Linked DNA regions of Homo sapiens. The protein of the gene in region 2 interacts with the protein of the main gene of each other region in a pairwise test. Each region holds a gene or a part of one and is shown on either strand. Other genes may lie near its edges.

Region 1 (5,862 bases), on a different chromosome or scaffold from region 2:
TTTCCGAGATGGTATCTTGCTCTGTTGCCCAGGCTGGAGTGCAGTAGTGCGATCTTGGCTCACTGCAGTCTCAAACTCCTGGGCTCAAGTGACCCTCCCACCTTACCATGCCTGGCTAACTTAAAAAAAAAAAATTTGTGTAGAGATGGGGTCTTGCTATGTTGCCCAGGCCAGTCTCAAACTCCTGGCCTCAAGTGATCCTCCCACCTCGGCCTCCCAAAGTGCTGGGATTACAGGCGTGAGCCACTGTGCCAGGCCTGCCAGTGTCTTGATCTTGGACTTCCCCGCCTCCGGAACTGTGAGAAATCAATTTCTGTTGCTCATAAATTACCCAGCCTGGCCAGGCACTTTGGGAGGACGTGGTGAGAGGAACGCTTGAGCTCAGGAGTTCAAGATCAGCCTGGGCAACATAGCAAGACCCCGTCTCTACAAAATAAATAAATGAATAAATAAATTACCCTGCCTAAGATATTTCTGTTCTAGCAGCAGGGACAGATGAAGACACACACACGTACACACATGGCCTGTATGCAGTTGTGGGTGAAGTTTATTAAGGCAATACTGAATACCAGAGCATTTCAACAAGGCTTACCACACAGGCCCCAGTACCTTTCTACTCTACAATGAGGCTCAGAAGCTCAGTGTACCACCCCATCCCCAGGAGGCCCACTTAGACCAGAAATCCCAAGTCCATTAGCTACAGGCTGATATTCAGGGACATCGGTGTAAACAAAGAAGTGGGATATGAACTATATCCCTGATTTTTTTTTCTTTTTTTTTTTTTTTGAGACTAAGTCTCACTCTTGTCCCCCAGGCTGGAGTGCAATGGCGCGATCTTGGCTCACTGCAACCTCCGCCTCTCAGGTTCAAGAGATTCTCTTGCCTCAGCCTCCTAACTGGGATAACAGACACCTGCTACCATGCCCGGCTCATTTTTTTTTGTATTTTTAGTAGAGACGGGGTTTCACCATGTTGGCCTGGCTGGTCTCGAACACCTGACCTCAGGTGTTCCGCCCGCCTCAGCCTCCCAAAGTGCTGGGATTACAGGTGTGAGCCACCGCACCCGGCCTATATTCCTGATATTTAACAAGGAAAAAAAATTCTGCAGGGGAGAACTTTCCTGAAAGATATTTTTTCTGGACATCTCTCTCTACTGACTGATAGGGTGAGGCTCAGAACAGGCTTCTTCCAAGCTCAGAGAGGCTGAGAGATGGGTCAACTGGGTGATGCCCGTTTTGAGAGCCTTAGCTTCCCAAGTGGACAGCACAGAAGAGCTGGGAGGAGTGGCTAGAAAATAAGTTTGAAATGAGCCCCGGGTTGAGGACTCCAGAGCACAGCTGCATTATAGAGACGGGGCCCGCTGAGTCCTCTCCTCTCCCCCTACTTCTTCTCCTCCGGGGCTTTCTCAGTGATTCCAGGGGCAAAGGGTCCCACGAGCCACGTGACAGGTGTGTTCTGGGCCACATATTCCACCATGTGGTCCAGGGCCTCGCGGGCGCTGGCGACACGCTCACGGCTCTGGGCCAGAATGCTGCTGGACAGGTCCTGGAAGGAGTGGATGCTGGAAAACGTGGCCTGGAGGTCCTCCACCTGGCGGCGGGCCTGCTGCACCTGGTCCTTCACATTGGTGGGGAGGCCCTGAATGCTGGACCCCAGGGAGGTACAGGTGGCCTGCAGTTGCTGGGCAATGTCCCGGAACATGGTGAGCGCCCGGGACTCGACCTGCTGAGAAGGGAGATGGGGACACCAATCAGGACCATTTGTTTCAGGAAAGGCGATCGGAGCTGAAGCCAGGGAAAGAGGGGAAGAGGGGTTCTACCACTGACCTTGGGGCAAACGCTTTCCATAGGCGAAACTTTTTTTTTTTTTTTTGAGACGGAGTCTCGCCCTGTCGCCCAGGCTGGAGTGCAGTGGCACAATCTCAACTCACTGCAAGCTCCGCCTCTCAGGTTCGCGCCATTCTCCTGCCTCAGCCTCCCGAGTAGCTGGGACTACAGGCGCCCACCACCACGCCAGGCTAATTTTTTGTATTTTTAGTAGAGACGGGGTTTCACCGTGTTAGCCAGGATGGTCTTGATCTCCTGACCTCGTGATCCGCCTGCCTTGGCCTCCCAAAATGCTGGGATTACAAGCGTGAGCCACCGTGCCCGGCCCTTTTTTTTTTTTTTTTTTTTGAGATAGAGTCTTGCTCTGTTGCCCAGGTTGGCGTGCAGTGGCATGATTTTGGCTCACTGCAACCTCCGCCTCCCAGGTTCAAGCGATTCTCCTACCTCAGCCTCCCGAATAGCTAGGACTACAGGCGCGTGCCACCACGCCCGTCTAACTTTTGCATTTTTAGTACAGATGGGGTTTCACCATGTTGGCCAGGCTGGTCTTGAACTCTACCTCAAGTGATCGGCCCTCCTTGGCCTCCCAAAGTACTGAGATTACAGGCATGAACCACCGCGCCCAGACTCTTTTCTTTTAATTAGAAACAGGATCTCACTTTGTCGCCCAGGCTGGAGTGCAGTGGCGTGATCATAGCTTACTACAGCCTGTAACTCCTGAGCTCAAGTTATCCTCTCATTTCAGCCTGCCTGACTACAGGCACTCACTACCACGCCCAGCTACATTTTTAAAATTTTCTGTAGAGCCAGGATCTCACTAAGTTGCCCAGGTCTTAAACTCCTGGGCCCAAGTGACCTGCCCACTTCAGCCTCCCAAAATGCTGGAATTACAGGCACGAGCCACTGCATTTGGCCACTAGTCAAATTCTTTAAAGGGCATAGACAAATCACCAAAGAAGATATAGGGAGAGCACATGAAAAGCTGTTTGACCTTATAAGTCATTGAGGAAATGCAAATCAAAACCATAAGGAGGCCTGGCATGGTGGCTCATGCCTGTAATCCCAGCACTTTGGGAGGCCAAGGTGCGTGGATCACCGAGGTCAGGAGTTCAGCCTGACCAACATGGCGAAACCCGCATTTCTACTAAAGATACAAAATTAGCCGGGTGTGGTGGCATGTGCCTATAATCCCAGCTACACAGGAAGCTGAGGCAGAAGAACTGCTTGCACCCAGGAGGCGGAGGTTGCAGTGAGCCAAGATCATGCCATTGCACTCCAGCCTGGGCAACAGAGCGAGACTCTGTCTCAAAAACAAACAAACAAACAAAAACCCCAGAGGCTATCAGATGATACCCACTGTCAGTCAAGAGGCGGAGAAATTGGAAGCCTCGTGTATTGCTGGTGGTATAGTTACTTTGGAAAACAGTCTAGCGGTTACTCAAAATGTTAAACCATAGAATCATCATATGACTCGGCAATTCTAGTTGTGGGTGTGTGCACAAGAGAAACGGAAACATACGTCCACACACAAAGACATGCACACAGGGGCACAGCAAAAAGTAGAAACGACTCAAGTGTCCTTCGGTTGATAAATGGGTGAACAGAATGTGATCCACCCATACAACAGAATGTGACTCAGCCATGGAACGTCATGGGGCTCTGACCCAGGCCACAGCATGGGTGAGCCCTAAGGACGTCACGCTCAGCGCGAGAAGCCGGACACAAAAGGCCAAACAGGGTGTGATCCCATTTCTATGAAATGTCCAGGACAGGCCCATCCAGAGACAGGAGGGGATACGTGGTTGGGAGGAGGAGGAAATGGGGCAGTGACTGCTGATGGGAAAAGGGTTTCTTTTTAGGGGCATGAGATGAGATAGGGATAGTTGCACAATGCTGAGAACCAGCGATGTGTATGCTTTAAATGCGTGACTTGTATGGTATGCAAATGAGATCTCAATAAAACTGTTAAAAAAAAAAAAAAGGCTGGGTGCGGTGGCTCACCCCTGTAATCCCCAGCACTTTGGGAGGCCGAGGAGGGTGGATCATGAGGTCAGGACGATCGGGACCATCCTGGCTAACATGGTGAAACCCCATCTCTACTAAAAAAACACAAAAAAATTAGCTGGGCATGGTGGCGGGAGCCTGTAGTCCTAGTTACTTAGGAGGCTGAGGCAGGAGAATGGCGTGAATCCGGGAGGCGGAGCTTGCAGTGAGCCGAAATCGCGTCACTGCACTCCAGCCTGGGCGACAGAGCGAGACTCCATCTCAAAAAAAAAAAAAAAAAAAAAAGAAAAAAAAAAGCTGTTAAAAAACAAAAAGTGGAAGCCAGGCTGGGACAGCCTGGAAGAACTTTCTAGGCAGAAGTTGTAAACCATCCGGGGAGAACATAGTTGAAATCAGGTCCTTGAAAATTTCCTTGGCCAGAGAGTGAGATGAGCACAGACAGGGTTCGAGACCAGCCTGGCCAACATGGTGAGACCCCATCTCTACTAAAAATACAAAAATTAGGCCGGGCGCAGTGGGTCAGGCCTGTAATCCCAGCACTTTGGGGGGCCAAGACGGGTGGATAACTTGAGGTTAGGAGTTCTAGACCAGCCTGGCAAACATGACAGAACCCTGTCTCTACTAAAAATACAAAAAAATTAGCTGGGTGTGGTTGCAGGCGCCTGTAATCCCAGCTACTTGGGAGACTGAGGCAGGAAAATTGCTTGAACCCAGGAGGTGGAGGCTGCAGTGAGTCAAGATCACGCCACTGCACTCCAGCTTGGGTGACGGAGTGAGACTCTGTCTCAAAAATAAATAAATAAATCAAATTAGCTGGGCGTGGTGGCAGGTGCCTGTAGTCTCAGCTACTCGGGAGGCTGAGGCAGGAGAATCGCTTGAACCCGGGAGGCAGAGGTTGCAGTGAGCCGAGATCATGACATTGCACTCCAGCCAGGGTGACAGAGTGAGACTCTATCTCAAAAAAAAAAAAAAAAAAAAAAAAGGCACACACTGGGAGGTAGGGTTTTGCCCAGAGCCCTGGCAGCTGGAGGACTCTGGACTTGAGCGAGGGATTACGGGAGAGTGCCCACGTGAGAGAGATAAGATCTGGTTTTTTCATTTGAAAAGTCATTCTGGCTGCTGTGCTTAGCAGTCGGGGAAACAGGAGACAGTTTTAGGCAGCAGGTGGTCTAGTTCTGCCTCCCGAACAATTTGCATTTATAGAGATATTCACCATATCTTTATGCATGTCACTTTTGTAGCCCTTACTATGTGCTTTTGATATGATCTCATTTCAGTTTTTAAAAAATCGATCTGGGTCCGGGCACGGTGGCTCACGCCTGTAATACCAGCACTTTGGGAGGCCGATGTGGGCGGATCACCTGCGGTCAGGAGTTTGAGACCAGCCTGGCCAACATGGCGAAACCCCGTGTCTACTAAAAAGTACAAAAATTAGCCGGGCGTGGTGACGCATGCCTGTAATCCCATCTACTGGGGAGGTGGAGACAGGAGAACCACTTGAACCCAGGAGGCAGAGGTTGCAGTGAGCTGAGATTGTGCCACTGCACTCCAGCCTGGGCAACAGAGCAATAAATAAATAAATAGGCAGGGTGCGGTGGCTCACGCCTGTAATCCCAGCACTTTGGGAGGCCGAGGCGGGCGGATCACAAGGTCAGCAGATCAAGACCATCCCGGGTAACACGGTGAAATCGCGTCTCTACTAAAAATACAAAAAAAATTAGCTGGGCCTGGTGGCGGGCGCCTGTAGTCCCAGATACTCGGGAGGCTGAGGCAGGAGAATGGCGTGAACCTGGGAGGCAGAGCTGGTAGTGAGCTGAGATTACACCACTGCACTCCAGCCTGGGTGACAGAGCGAGACTCCATCTCAAAAAATAAATAAATAAATAAATAAATAAATAATTGATCTGGGGTCGGGTGTGGTGGCTCATGCCTGTAATCCCAGTGCTTTGGAAGGCTGAAGTGGGAGTATTGCTTGACACCAGGAGCTCAAGACCAGCCTGGGCAACACAGTGAGATCCTGTCTCTACTAAAA
Region 2 (5,199 bases):
GGAGATCTGATGGTACTAAACAGGCCAAGCCTAGGAGGCAGCAGTGTCCCCAACCTGCCCTATCTCTAGCAGAAGCTGCAGACCAGCCCCAGAAAGCTGGCTCTGCCCCAGCCTTGTGGACACCTCATGATACGGCCTCAATTCATTCTACCTGAGCAAATGACCGGGGAGTGAAATAGATTACATTGGCATTTGTTGTTTCTTGCTTAACAGAAACTGCTGCTCCCCCAGCCCTTGGAAGACTGATTTTTAATTCCAGAGTCTTCTCAGGAAGCCCTTTTTACTACTATAGTACTCACTTTTAAGCGTTCACCTCAGATGAACTTCTGACCATGTCTCTAGACCCCCAACAGGCTAAATCCCCAGTCTGTGTTTTCATAGCACTCGACCACCTTTTCATCCTTCTTGGGAAATTTTAAGTTGTTTTTTGTTTGTTTGTTTGTTTGTTTTTGAGATGGAGGTTTGCTCATTGCCCAGGCTGGAGTGCAATGGCACGATCTCGGCTCACTGCAACCTCTGCCTCCCAGGTTCAAGCGATTCTCCTGCCTCAGCCTCCCAAGTAGCTGGGATTGCTGGCATGCACCACCATGCCTGGCTAATTTTGTATTTTTAGTAGAGATGGGTTTCACCATGTTGGCCAGGCTGGTCTCGAACTCCCGACCTCAGGTGATCTGCCCGCATCAGCCTCCCAAAGTGCTGGGATTATAGGCATGAGCCTCCATGCCTGGCTGTTCGTTTGTTTTTTTGAGACAGAGTCTCGCTCTGTCACCCAGGCTAGAGTGCAGTGGCGTGATCTTGGCTCACTGCAACCTCTGTCTCCCAGGCTCAAGCAATTCTCCTACCTCAGCCTCCTGAGTAGCTGGGATTACAGAAGCGCACCACCACGCCCCGCTAATTTTTGTATTTTTAGTAGAGACAGGGTCTCACCATGTTGGCCAGGCTGGTCTTAAACCCCTGACCTCAAATGATCCGCCCGCCTCGGCCTCCCAAAGTGCTGGGATTACAGGTGTGAGCCACCGTGCCCAGCCCAAGAAATTTTAAATTAAATAACAATTAATCATATGATTAGTTACTTAATGCCTACCTCCCTAACACATGAGCTAAAGTGTGTGAGCTCCAGGAGGGACAGCATCCTGCCTTTCTTGTTCATATGTCCCCTTTCCCAGTCCAGGGCATGACAGAATATTTGTTGAGTCAATAATAACCCATTTCATTCTCAGATTCTTGGACAGTTCGTACTGCCATGGGGTTTTTCACAAGTGTTCCTCCGAACTCTTCTGTGATGGGAGGCCTCTGGAATTTTGGTCTTCCCCTAATCTTACCAATATTTAATGAGCCCAGTGTGGGGCTTTGACAGGAATACAAAGGTGACTAAGATTCTGCCTCAGTCTCTGAAGAGACCAACAAGTTGACATATTCTGCTGTGAAGTTTATTGCTGTTTTGCTTTTGACAGTGGTGAGACAGCATTCAAAGCCATGATGGAGTCCTTTGGCTGGGCCCGGCGCCCTATGCTGGAGCGAATTCACTTGATTCGAAAAGATGTGCCTATCACTATGATCTACGGGTCCGACACCTGGATAGATACCAGTACGGGAAAAAAGGTGAAGATGCAGCGGCCGGATTCCTATGTCCGAGACATGGTATGTTGCACCACCCAAGGAGTGGAAATGATGACTGAGAGTCAATCACCTCTCAGCCTTGGGGTAGAGAAGGGTGATCAAGGAGAAAGAGGAATGGACAGACTGAGATAGAGCAGTAGATTTGAGAAGTTTGGAAACTCTCTTTGGAATATCTTTTTTTTTTCGTGATGGAGTCTCGCTATTGTTGCCCAGGCTGGAGGGCAATGGTACAATCTCGGCTCACTGCAACCTCCGCCTCCCGGGTTCAAGCGATTCTTCTGCCTCAGCCTCCCGAGTAGCTGGGATTATTAGCATGCGCCACCACGCCCAGCTAATTTTGTATTTTTAGTAGAGACGAGGTTTCTCCATGTTGGTCAGGCTGGTCTCGAACTCCTGACCTCACGTGATCCGCCCACCTTGGCCTCCCAAAGTGCTCGTATTGTACTACCTTCATTAGGGGCTTCCTGCTTTTAGCCCAGTTCAGCTAAAAGGCTGGTTCTTGTCTAGCAGCCAGGCACCTGCTGCTACTCCAGCCCCCATGTAGTTTCTACCCCAAAACCAGAGCCATGGGCAGTAGAGTGAATAGTAGAGGCTGCCATGAAGCTTCCCCACCACACCTCCTCCCCTTTTTTCTTACCCCTCTCCGCCATGTGCCAATGAGTGTGCTTAATGAGGCTGGGTGCCAACCATGGGCCCAGGTTTACTGGACCTTTGGATTAAATGAGCAGATCAGTGGTGGGGCTAACACAGAAGGAAAGACACAGTGAATGTTTATCAAGTAAGTAGAATGGGAAAGCATTGGCTGTCAAAGGAAAATACCAAGATCCAAGCGAGAAAGGTGGAGCATTATCTCTGATAAGAGCTCGTGGGTGGCAGGCAAGCAAGTCTAAGGGGAAAAGAAATAGCGTGAAGGCTTCCCAGCACCAGGAATAAAAGGCCATCCCACCCCTGCGGGTTCTCTCTCCACAGGAGATTAAGGGTGCCTCCCACCATGTCTATGCTGACCAGCCACACATCTTCAATGCTGTGGTGGAGGAGATCTGCGACTCAGTTGATTGAGCTGCTCTCTGAAGAGGAAGAGGAGAAAGCCAGAGAGTCACTCTTACCTCCCTGTCTGCTTACTCACCCACTCTGTCCTTTCCTCACCAACTAACATGTGCCAGCCAGGCAGAGTCTTGTGCTGTTCCCAGAACAGGACGACAGTGAAAAGAACACTCTTGACCCTACACTGAAGGCTGAAGGCAGAAGCCACAAGAGGCCTTGAGTGCCACCCCCAGGGAAGAACATAAAGGGTTGCACAATGCCACCCATCCACTCCTTGCCAAGTGTTACCCAGATGGTGGAGGATGTGAAGGGATTGCACCAAGCCACATTCACTCTCTCTGTGGCCTTTCTTCCTCTGGGCAAAGAAGGGCTTCCAGTGGCCTTTCCTCACTCTGTAGTGTTTGTGGGGATAGGTTCCATGCAAGAACACCTTCCTCCTCCATCCCCCACTTCACCCCATCCCATACCAGTTCCATCCAGGGTCTGCTTAACTGCCAAGAGCAGGTCCTGGAGTTCCCTTCACCTGCAGAGTCCTTTTCATGACCTAGGAGGTCTTATTCAAAGCCCTCATTGACAGAGGAGGAAACAGGCCAAGGCAGGACATGGCTGGACCATGGTGATACAGCTCTGTGTGATTCAAGTTCTGGCAGAGCTTGTAAGGCTAGAGCCCAGGTCTGCCGACACCCTGTGCTTGTTGCACACTTGATTTGCTAAGGCTGGAGACAGGCACCATTGCCATGGGGCTGGTCCTAGTCACTGGCCGAGGATAAGCCCGTCCCTGTCCCACATTCTAGCCCCACTATGCGGGGGTGCTGTTGTCCTGCCTGTGTCTCATCCCCGGCTGCCTAAGCTAGGGACACTCAAGTGCTTCCTTCCTTGCCCCATCTTCCTCCCAACTGGAGGCCTCTGAGCCTCCCCTGTGCCTTGGGCCCTGAAGCCCCATATGTAGTATAGAGCAAAGGTGGCTCCTGGTGAAGAGAGGGTGGAAAGGCCCTTCAGCCCCAGGGCCATGTCTGGGTTCTCCATGCCCATCAGTCTCTGCAGTTTCTCTACCTGCCCCCAGAGCTGAGGCCATCTGCAAGCCCCTGCCCATGGCCCAATGGGGAGCCTCCAGCCACAAGTTCCCTGTCCTTATCAGCCACTGGGTGGTTCCCACTGCATGACCCTCTATCCCTGCCATCTGTCCCCATGGTTTCCAGCTCAATCCACCCCTGACCCATCTGTCAGCTTTTTCCCAGGGAGCCGTTTCAGGGGTTCTGGGCAGTAGGCTGGGCCTGGCCTCAGAACCTGGTGGCTCCTGCCTGCTCCTTCACTTTTGTAAAACCATCCCCTTCACCAGAATGGTATTAACTCCTGGTGCTTTGTACTACTGGTCCAGCTGCCCTGGGCTCCTTTTCTATATTAATAAAGAAACGAGTAAAAATTACCGGTGGGGATGATGTTTAAAATTGCTCTGATCACTGGTGGTGCTGAATTCGCAACAGCCTGTGTGATGCCTGAGAGAAGGGAGTCCTGAGGGTTGCCTGCCTACCCACGACTCCTTCTCCTTTTAGTGTGGCGTTTGCCCGCTAGACCCAGCCCAGAGTCCAGGTCAGCACAGGCCCTCTCAGCCAACCACTCATGACAAATGAGGAGTCGAGATCCACAGTGTGGATGGGGCAAGCCCCAGTTCACAGTAGAGAGGTGGAACTTAGTACTTCCTGCTGCCCATTAGACACCCTTTCTTCCTAAGTTCAAGGGAAGCCCACACATGTACTGCTCCCTGCATCCTGCTCTAACTTCCTCTCATCCTCTGGATCTCAGCTCAAATATTCCTTATGCAGAGATGCCTTCCCCTGATTCCCTAAACTAGACTCGGACCCCTCTGTTCTGCATCTCTGTGGCATATCATCTGCCCCTTTTGTAAAACTTATAAACTTGTGGTTACTTGTTTAGCGTCTCTTTCCTCCCCAGACCATAAGCAACATAAAGACAAAGGGTACATCTAGCACATAGTTCGTGTTCAATAAATGTTTGTTTTCATCATGCCACGGGAAGTGAGATATACCAAGTATTCAAAAAAGTGTTCAAATCATTACTAACAGTGCTTGCTCTGTGCTGGCTGAGTCCAGCTGGGCCCAGAATTCCACGGTTCTAAATGGCGCATATTCCATGTGCATAGGCTGATTGAAAATGTATTAAACCTAAATTTTAAAAAAAAAGCACATGATACTACACATGTCATGATGAATGAATAGACAGAACTCCTCCTGAATATAATTACAAAGTTCTGATCCATCTCAGGACCCTGTGTCTTCTCTGAGGATTTTTATAGGGAGGAGAAGGCAGGTATATAGAGCTTACTACATGCCAACCACTAGGGCTGCAATAGTGAAGAAACAGAGAGTGTCTGCCTTTGTGAGAAATTCCAGTTCACTCAAAGAGATGCACCTAGTCAAAATATTATGTAAATCAATGTAAAATTGCTAAAGTGCTACCCGTGAGAATTGAGAAAACCTCCTGCAGAAGTGATGGCAGCTGTGCCTGAAGGCAGGA
Region 3 (7,035 bases), on a different chromosome or scaffold from region 2:
ATTATCACCCCCATTTTACAGCTGAAAAAAAAAAGCTGTAGTGTATGATGAATAATTTGCCCGTAACTACATGCCTAGTGAGTGTAGCAAGCCCAAGATTTGCAGCTAGGTCTTCTTTAAGATGCCAAACGCCATCTCTTGCCCTCACATCATACCTCAGTGGTCTCCTTCCTGGTTAGCTACACACAGGTCTTTTATTTTTCCAGAGAGAGATTATAATCGAACCTGACTTCAGAAATCTGGATCACCCCTAGTCCAGTTATATAGACTGTGGACATATGTGTGTGTTGTTGATTTTCAACTGAGGTTCATTGCTTTTTGGTTGGAGAAAAGGAATTTGTAAAATTTGATGTTAAGTGGACAGGCCTGTCAGTAATGTTCTGTAACTTAGTCTTTAAATCTAGAGGGGGTTTTTGGTCTGTTGTTTAAATAACATGAAACTACATACAACTGTGTCCTTGCCTAGAATCAAGAAGTGGTGGACTTTGAAAAGTTGGATGACTACGCCTCTGCCTTTCAAGGTCATGATGTTGGATTCTGTTGCCTGGGTACCACCAGAGGGAAAGCTGGGGCGGTAAGGAAGGCATATGCTCTTTTCCCTTTTTGCTGGCCAGTAATATCAAGGATTCTTTTCTTGCTCACTCTTTTTCTTTGTGCCTGTTGCAATGCTTAAATGTGAATAAGCCTTTATTGTTTAAGATTCTATATGCTGCACTAACCTTTGGTATCCTTTTAATAGTACTGATAAGTTCGTCTTTCAAAGTAATCCTTGAGTTCAGGCCCCAGTGCTGGAGACGTCGTAAATATTTACATGATTTTGCCTATTGTGATTATCGCTATCACTACATCCCCTGACTAAGGGAAACCATGATGTCTGAGTAAAACTAATTGGTTTATGCTGTTAACAATCAGCTGTTTTTCCCCTTAATAAATGTTTGAAATTTGAAATGTTCTGTCTCACTTGAGTGATTTGCTTCAACTTATTTTCATGTCAAGCTTTAAACTTCTGGAATAGAACATCAGAACACAGGCACGATTCAACCAGCCTCCAGCGATGACTCAGCCTTCAGCGATGATTCAACCCCACTAATGATTCAGTCTTTACTGACGCAAAAGTCTTTTAACGCACATTTTATTTTCTTTTTAATGGTGTTCTAAATTGAGTCAGCTCCTGTACAGAAGTCATAGTTTACTACATAGTTAGAAATCAGAGTTTACTACCTGGATTCTGGGCAAATGTTAGTGCGGGTACATCTTATTTAATTTATACTTTGACTATAGTTTATTCCTCTGGCAGAATTTACATGCTGGAGCTGAAAAAACCTGCATGTTCTGCATATGTATCCCAGAACTTAAAGTAAAATTTAAAAATATTTAATAATAAATACATAAATAAAACAGAAGAAAGTGAAAAAAGTAAATAAATAAATAAAGCCGAGGCACAGTGGTTCATGCCTGTAATCCCAGGAAAACAAGAAAAAAGAAAAAATATATATATATATGACTATGACTCTGCCATGGGAATTCTCCTTAGGTTTATAAGCCAGACCCCTTCACCTGAAACATTAAGGGAGCATATAGTGAAGAACTATTCATTTATACCAACCGAGTAGTTAGATTCAGATGTATTTCTTTGGGCCTCCTTGTGATGCAAAGAGTAATTCTATGTATGCTTTCAATCAAGATGTATTTCCATACCTTCTGCAGTTCTGCCTATCTGTCCTGGAACACAGCTGGGATTGGAGCTCTGTGATGGGAACTATGGATTATAGAGAAGTTTGACTTTCCCAGGAATTGGCACATTATCTCTCCTAGAAAGGGTCATGTTCCTGCTTAACAGTGGGTGCAGTCTTTTCTGTCCCAGGCACAGTCACAAGTGGTGTGCCCTCCAAAAGCATTGAAAAACTTTTGTTCCAGGACACTGCAGGTTTGTCTCAAGTGCCAACCTGGTTTTGGTGGTGAGTCAGCAAAACAAAATGCTGCATTAGGCATAGAAGGGTTGATTTTCATGACATAAGGCAAATCTCATTATAGGGTGTGCCAGGGAAAAGTCTAAACTGCTTTTTGTGTTCAAAATGGGTAATGCAATTTTAATCAGAGGAATTGTGTGTCTTTACTATCCAGAATTTTCTTTTTTAATGGGGTTGGTTCTTCACGTCTCAGGCTATTCAATACCTTTTGTTCTCCTTTAAAATCAATTTGGAAAGATAAAAGTAATTAACTAGTAAGCAAGAATAGACTAATGAGCCTAGACTATTCACCTAGCTTAGAAATGAATTAGGACTTAAATGATTTAAGAGGTTAGTGGTGGAAAGCAAGCTGACACTTATACCAGAAAAGTGTTTTGTTTGTTTTGGGGGCTTTAAAAAAAAAACTAATTTGGGCTGTGTACAATATAAAGTTGGGAGGTTGATAACTTTAGCCAATATGAAAGAGGTGACAGTTCATATGTGGCTAAGTAACGATAGTGTTTTAAGTGGAGGTTGTGGATTTCCAAGCTTATCCCAGCTGGTGTTCTGGGTCAGCAGCCCTCTCTGTAGAAAAAAGTTCGTTGGGTGGTTTATCATATGAGTACTACAAAGCTAGTGGCAAAACTAGTACGCTTCACTAGGGATTTTGTAACTGGAACACCTCATATATTGCCTTAGCAGTCTGTGTTTCCAGCAGAGAAACTTCAAGAAATTCAGCGTTTTTGTCTCAGTATTGAGATCCTCTGTGTAGGTGGCTTATTTCCATGTGATGTTCAGTGTATTAGTTTGCTAGGGCTGCCATAACCCAAGTAGCTTGAACAACAGAAACGTATTGTCTCACAGTTCTGGAGGCTAGAAGTCTGAGATCCAGGTCTCAGCAGGCTGGTCAGTGCTCTGAGGCTGAGCCCTTGAGTTTCCAGGCCCTCTCCTTGTCTTGTAGATGGCAGCCTTCTCTTTGTGTCTCTTTACGTGGTATTTTCCCTGAATACCTGTGCCTATATCCACATTTCCCCTTTTTATAAGACCACTAGTCATACTGGATTAGGGACCACCCTATTTAGTATGATCTCAACTAATTACATCTGCAATGAACTTATTTCCAAATAAGGTCATATTCTGAGGTAATGGGGGTTAGGAGTTCAACATACGCATTTTGGGGGGATGTAATCCAACCCACAAAATTCAGTCTACTCAGGTTTCTATTGACACTGGTTCTAGGAAAAGGTCTATTAGCTTTCCTCAGCTGTTTGGAAGACTATTTCCTTTAACAGTAGCTGGGCAGATGCTAATCTTCCTTTTCATATTCACAGAACACAGTTGTTCAGTCAATGCACTGGCTCCCTGACTTGGCCCTGATCCAGATCTACTGCATCAGCATCTCTGAATTTGGAAGCTTGGAATCTGTATTTTTAGCAGGCTCCTTGGGAGATCCTGATGCAGTCAACCCTGTCCTTCTTGTTGAACCTACTTTCAAGAGGCATTGGGGTGTATTAATTCCCCTCACTTGCTGGTTTTCTGGGTACTGTGGTCCTGGATAACCTTTGCCTTGCTTTAGTGAGTAACTTGTTTGCTAGTGAAGATTGAAATAGCCTTTGAAAACCAGATCTGTATTGTCCTGGAGTGAAGCACAAAAACTTAGAGATGCCAGTGAGAATAGTTCATTTCCCCTTATTTGTATCAAAAGAGGGATTTGATTAGTGAATTCAAGGTGGTTCGATGTGGTTTCACCTTTTCATTTGTTTCCTCACCTGGTCGTAGTAGGCTCCAGAAGTCCAGGTTCTTGTTTTCTGTTGAGTGGATGATGTCATTAATGTGATTAGTGTGGCCACTGTGACATTTATTAGGCATCTCATGGCCCATCTCATTAGAACCTTATGGCTTCTGATTCTAATGATCTGCTCTTCTAATTCAAAGGTTTGCAATACAGCCTGCCACCTGTTTTTGTACACCCTGTGAGCTAAGAATGTCTTTATGTATATATTTTTTTTTTGAGACGGAGTCTCGCTCAGTTGCCCAGGCTAGAGTGCAGTGGCGCAATCTCGGCTCACTGCAAGCTCCGCCTCCTGGGTTCACGCCATTCTCCTGCCTCAGCCTCCCAAGTAGCTGGGACTACAGGTGCCCACCACCATGCCCAGCTAATTTTTTGTATTTTTAGTAGAGATGGGGTTTTACCGTGTTAGCCAGGATGGTCTCGATCTCCTGACCTCGTGATCTGCCCGTCTTGGCCTCCCAAAGTGCTGGGATTACAGGCGTGAGCCACCGCACCCGGCCTATATTTTTAACTGGTTAAAAAATTCAAAAGAATAATGTCATACCATGTGAAAATATAAAAACTTCAAATTTTAGTCTTTATACATAAAGTGGTATTGGGACACAGCCATGCTTATTACTTTATGTATTATCTGTGGCTGCTTTTGTGCTATTAACATAATGGTAGAGCTATATAGTTGCAACAGAGGCCTGCAAAGCTAAAAATAGTTACTGTCTGATCCTTTACAGGAAAAGTTTGCCCACCCTTGTTCTAATCTCTGTTGTTTATTTGATGTCTAGGAGGGGGCTTGTGAAGTGGCGAGGTCCTAGCTGGTTCAAGGGACCCAGATCACAGGCCCTGTTTGGTTGCCAAGTAGCTATGGAGCCTGGAGTTTGCTGGTTAGCTTTTGGAGGCCACTACCTCCTTGTCTGTCAGAAGGAGGTGACCAGTGAACCCACCTTCCTACTGCAAAATTCTTAAACATTTTTCTGTTTTTTTGAGACAGAGTCTCATTCCATCGCCCAGGCTGGAGTGCAGTTGTGTGATTTCGGCTCACTGCAGGAGTGCGATTTCGGTCACTGCAGCCTCCACCTACCCAGCTCAAGCAATCCTCCCACCTCAGCCTCCCAAGTAGCTGGGACCACAGGCATGCGCCACCATGGCTGGCTAATTTTTGTATTTTTTTTTGTAGAGACAGGGTTTTGCCATGCTTCCCACCCAGGCTGGTCTTGAACTCCTGGGTTCAAGTGATCTGCTTGCCTCGGCCTCCCAAAGTGCTGGGATTACCATGAGCCATCGCACCCGGCCTGAAAAATTCTTTGACTCTATGAAACACAGAAGAAAGAATATCCAATTGGAAAACTTTTTCAAGAACATATAGATTGACCCAGGAATCCTCAGTATCTGCTTGATTTTATTTATCTATCCAGAACTTCTCTAACCAAGATCTTTCCCCTACCATTGAACATCAAATATGGAGATGCCCTCCAGGACACAAACAAAAGGTGCCTCAGATTATACCATTTGGTGTTTGTCAGCATCTTTGTTTTCTAGTCTAATTTATAGGGTTGGATTGAAAGGGAGTGAAGGAGAAAGAACCTGAAGCAGAAATAGGGCTGAATGGGACCTTTACAGAATGATAGACCCACCCTTCTTGGAAAAAGATCCCCATGATTTACTTTTTTATAAATTAATTAATTTTTTAGAGACAGGGTCTCACTGTGTTGCCAAGGCTAGACTCAAATTCCTGGGATCAAGCGATCTTCCTGCTTCAGCCTCCTGAGTAGCTGGGACCACAGACCACCGTGCCTGACCCCATGACCTTCTTGAGTCGTTTAGACGTGCTAACTTGTCCTATCAGTCAGCACTGAAATACTATACCTTGTTAGGATGAGTTGTTCTGAAGCCAGAATGTTGTTTTTAGTTTTCAGGCACTGGTAAAGAAGATTAGAAGAAATACTTAGTAGCTTTGGATTTTAGTAAGACTTAAGAGTCGTTGGAGAATTTGCTGCCTTTGATGTTGTGGAGCCTATGAGGATATCTCTACTGAGTGTAGTATACTGTGTTTATTCTTTTTGAGAGGGTGCTGGGAAAGGACTTTATAGTGGGAACTTATTTAATTAATTCCTTTTTCTAGAAGGGACTCAGATTCCTAGCTTAGAGCAGGACACATTGGCTATGGAATCATAAAGACAGAATGACATGTGGACTTAATACTCTCAGAAGAGATGTCTGTCCACATGGTTAGGGAAACTAAGTACAGTTTTTCTAAAAATTGTGTTTCTGAGATATGAAATAGCTTGCTTTAGTTAGTTTTTCTGTTGTTTTTTTAATCGAGCTATTGGAGAACAATAAAGGGCATGAATAAGATTTTCGAGATCGCTCCTTTCATCTGTAAATAGAATCTTCCTCACTCCAGAGAAAATTGGTGTGTGATACCTCCTAGTCAGTCATCAGGACCCATGCTTCAGTTTGATTTTTAAGTCTTTGAAAGCTGTTGACCCTTTTGCTTTTGAGTTTCATTCACCAGCTAAAAGGCCACGCCATCAGGGTGACGGAAGTGAAATTCAAAATTTAGTGGGCTTGGAAAAACGCGTATTTATAATGAGCTTGAAGGCTCAGAGGATTTGTGAAATCGTTTTGGATTAACAGCCATTGATTGCTAATAAAACAATATTTAGCTTTGTCCAGAGAACAGCAATGGAGAAAGGTATGGGCACCTTGTCAACAGGCCCCATTGAGCAGGGATGATGGGCTAAGTGTGGGGGTCTCTGCAGCAGCGTGGGTGCTCGTCCTTCAAGGAGCGGTTGTCAGTCGTTAGCGAGGCGGGTGAAAGGAAGGACGCCAAAGTCTGATGGCCGGGGTGGTATTGATGTGCCTTCGCTGACTAATCAGATTGAAAAAGTCCCATGGTATTTATGTCACTTTAATTTTCATCAAACAATTGGAGACGACAGCACTCTATTAAGGAGAGGTTGATCCAGAACTAAAGCCAAATAAATTAGGGTCTCAGTTTAATCAAATTATCCTTTTACTGGCTCTGGATTAAGTGAGAGAGACAGCGTCGGTCAGGAGACTTGTGATTGGCTGAATCTTTCCCTTATTTTTAAAGAAACGGATGAAAGAAAAAGTATTTTAACAGACTACTATAATAATCCTTCCAATCAATCTTGCTAAAACAACAACAACAAAAAAACTGAATTTATTTCACTAGTCAACTGTGTCATTTTGTTGTGAATAACTAACCTGTCATTAAAATCAGAGTTCTGATAAACTGGCATGAGGGGAAGAAACAGATGTGGAAGAAAAATTTAG

What was found. Proteins that work in one complex are often made in the same cells at the same time.
Region 1: the proteins of ABHD4 (region 2) and PLIN3 interact in binary tests that used the Homo sapiens proteins (3 or more experiments, as listed by UniProt).
Region 3: the proteins of ABHD4 (region 2) and HTATIP2 interact in binary tests that used the Homo sapiens proteins (3 or more experiments, as listed by UniProt).

The regions. Positions count from the first base shown.
Region 1 is NC_000019.10:4,837,812-4,843,673, forward strand, and holds the end of PLIN3 (perilipin-3), read right to left. Parts: intron 1,726-5,862; coding exon 1,381-1,725; 3' UTR 530-1,380; downstream 1-529. UniProt on the Homo sapiens protein: Structural component of lipid droplets, which is required for the formation and maintenance of lipid storage droplets. Required for the transport of mannose 6-phosphate receptors (MPR) from endosomes to the trans-Golgi network.
Region 2 is NC_000014.9:22,608,270-22,613,468, forward strand, and holds the end of ABHD4 ((Lyso)-N-acylphosphatidylethanolamine lipase), read left to right. Parts: intron 1-1,454; coding exon 1,455-1,641; intron 1,642-2,589; coding exon 2,590-2,679; 3' UTR 2,680-4,694; downstream 4,695-5,199. UniProt on the Homo sapiens protein: Lysophospholipase selective for N-acyl phosphatidylethanolamine (NAPE).
Region 3 is NC_000011.10:20,366,708-20,373,742, forward strand, and holds part of HTATIP2 (protein HTATIP2), read left to right. Parts: intron 1-466; coding exon 467-574; coding exon of another isoform or gene 575-673; exon of another isoform or gene 674-948; intron 949-7,035. UniProt on the Homo sapiens protein: Represses translation by preventing reactivation of elongation factor eEF1A. May also inhibit nuclear import by competing with nuclear import substrates for binding to a subset of nuclear transport receptors.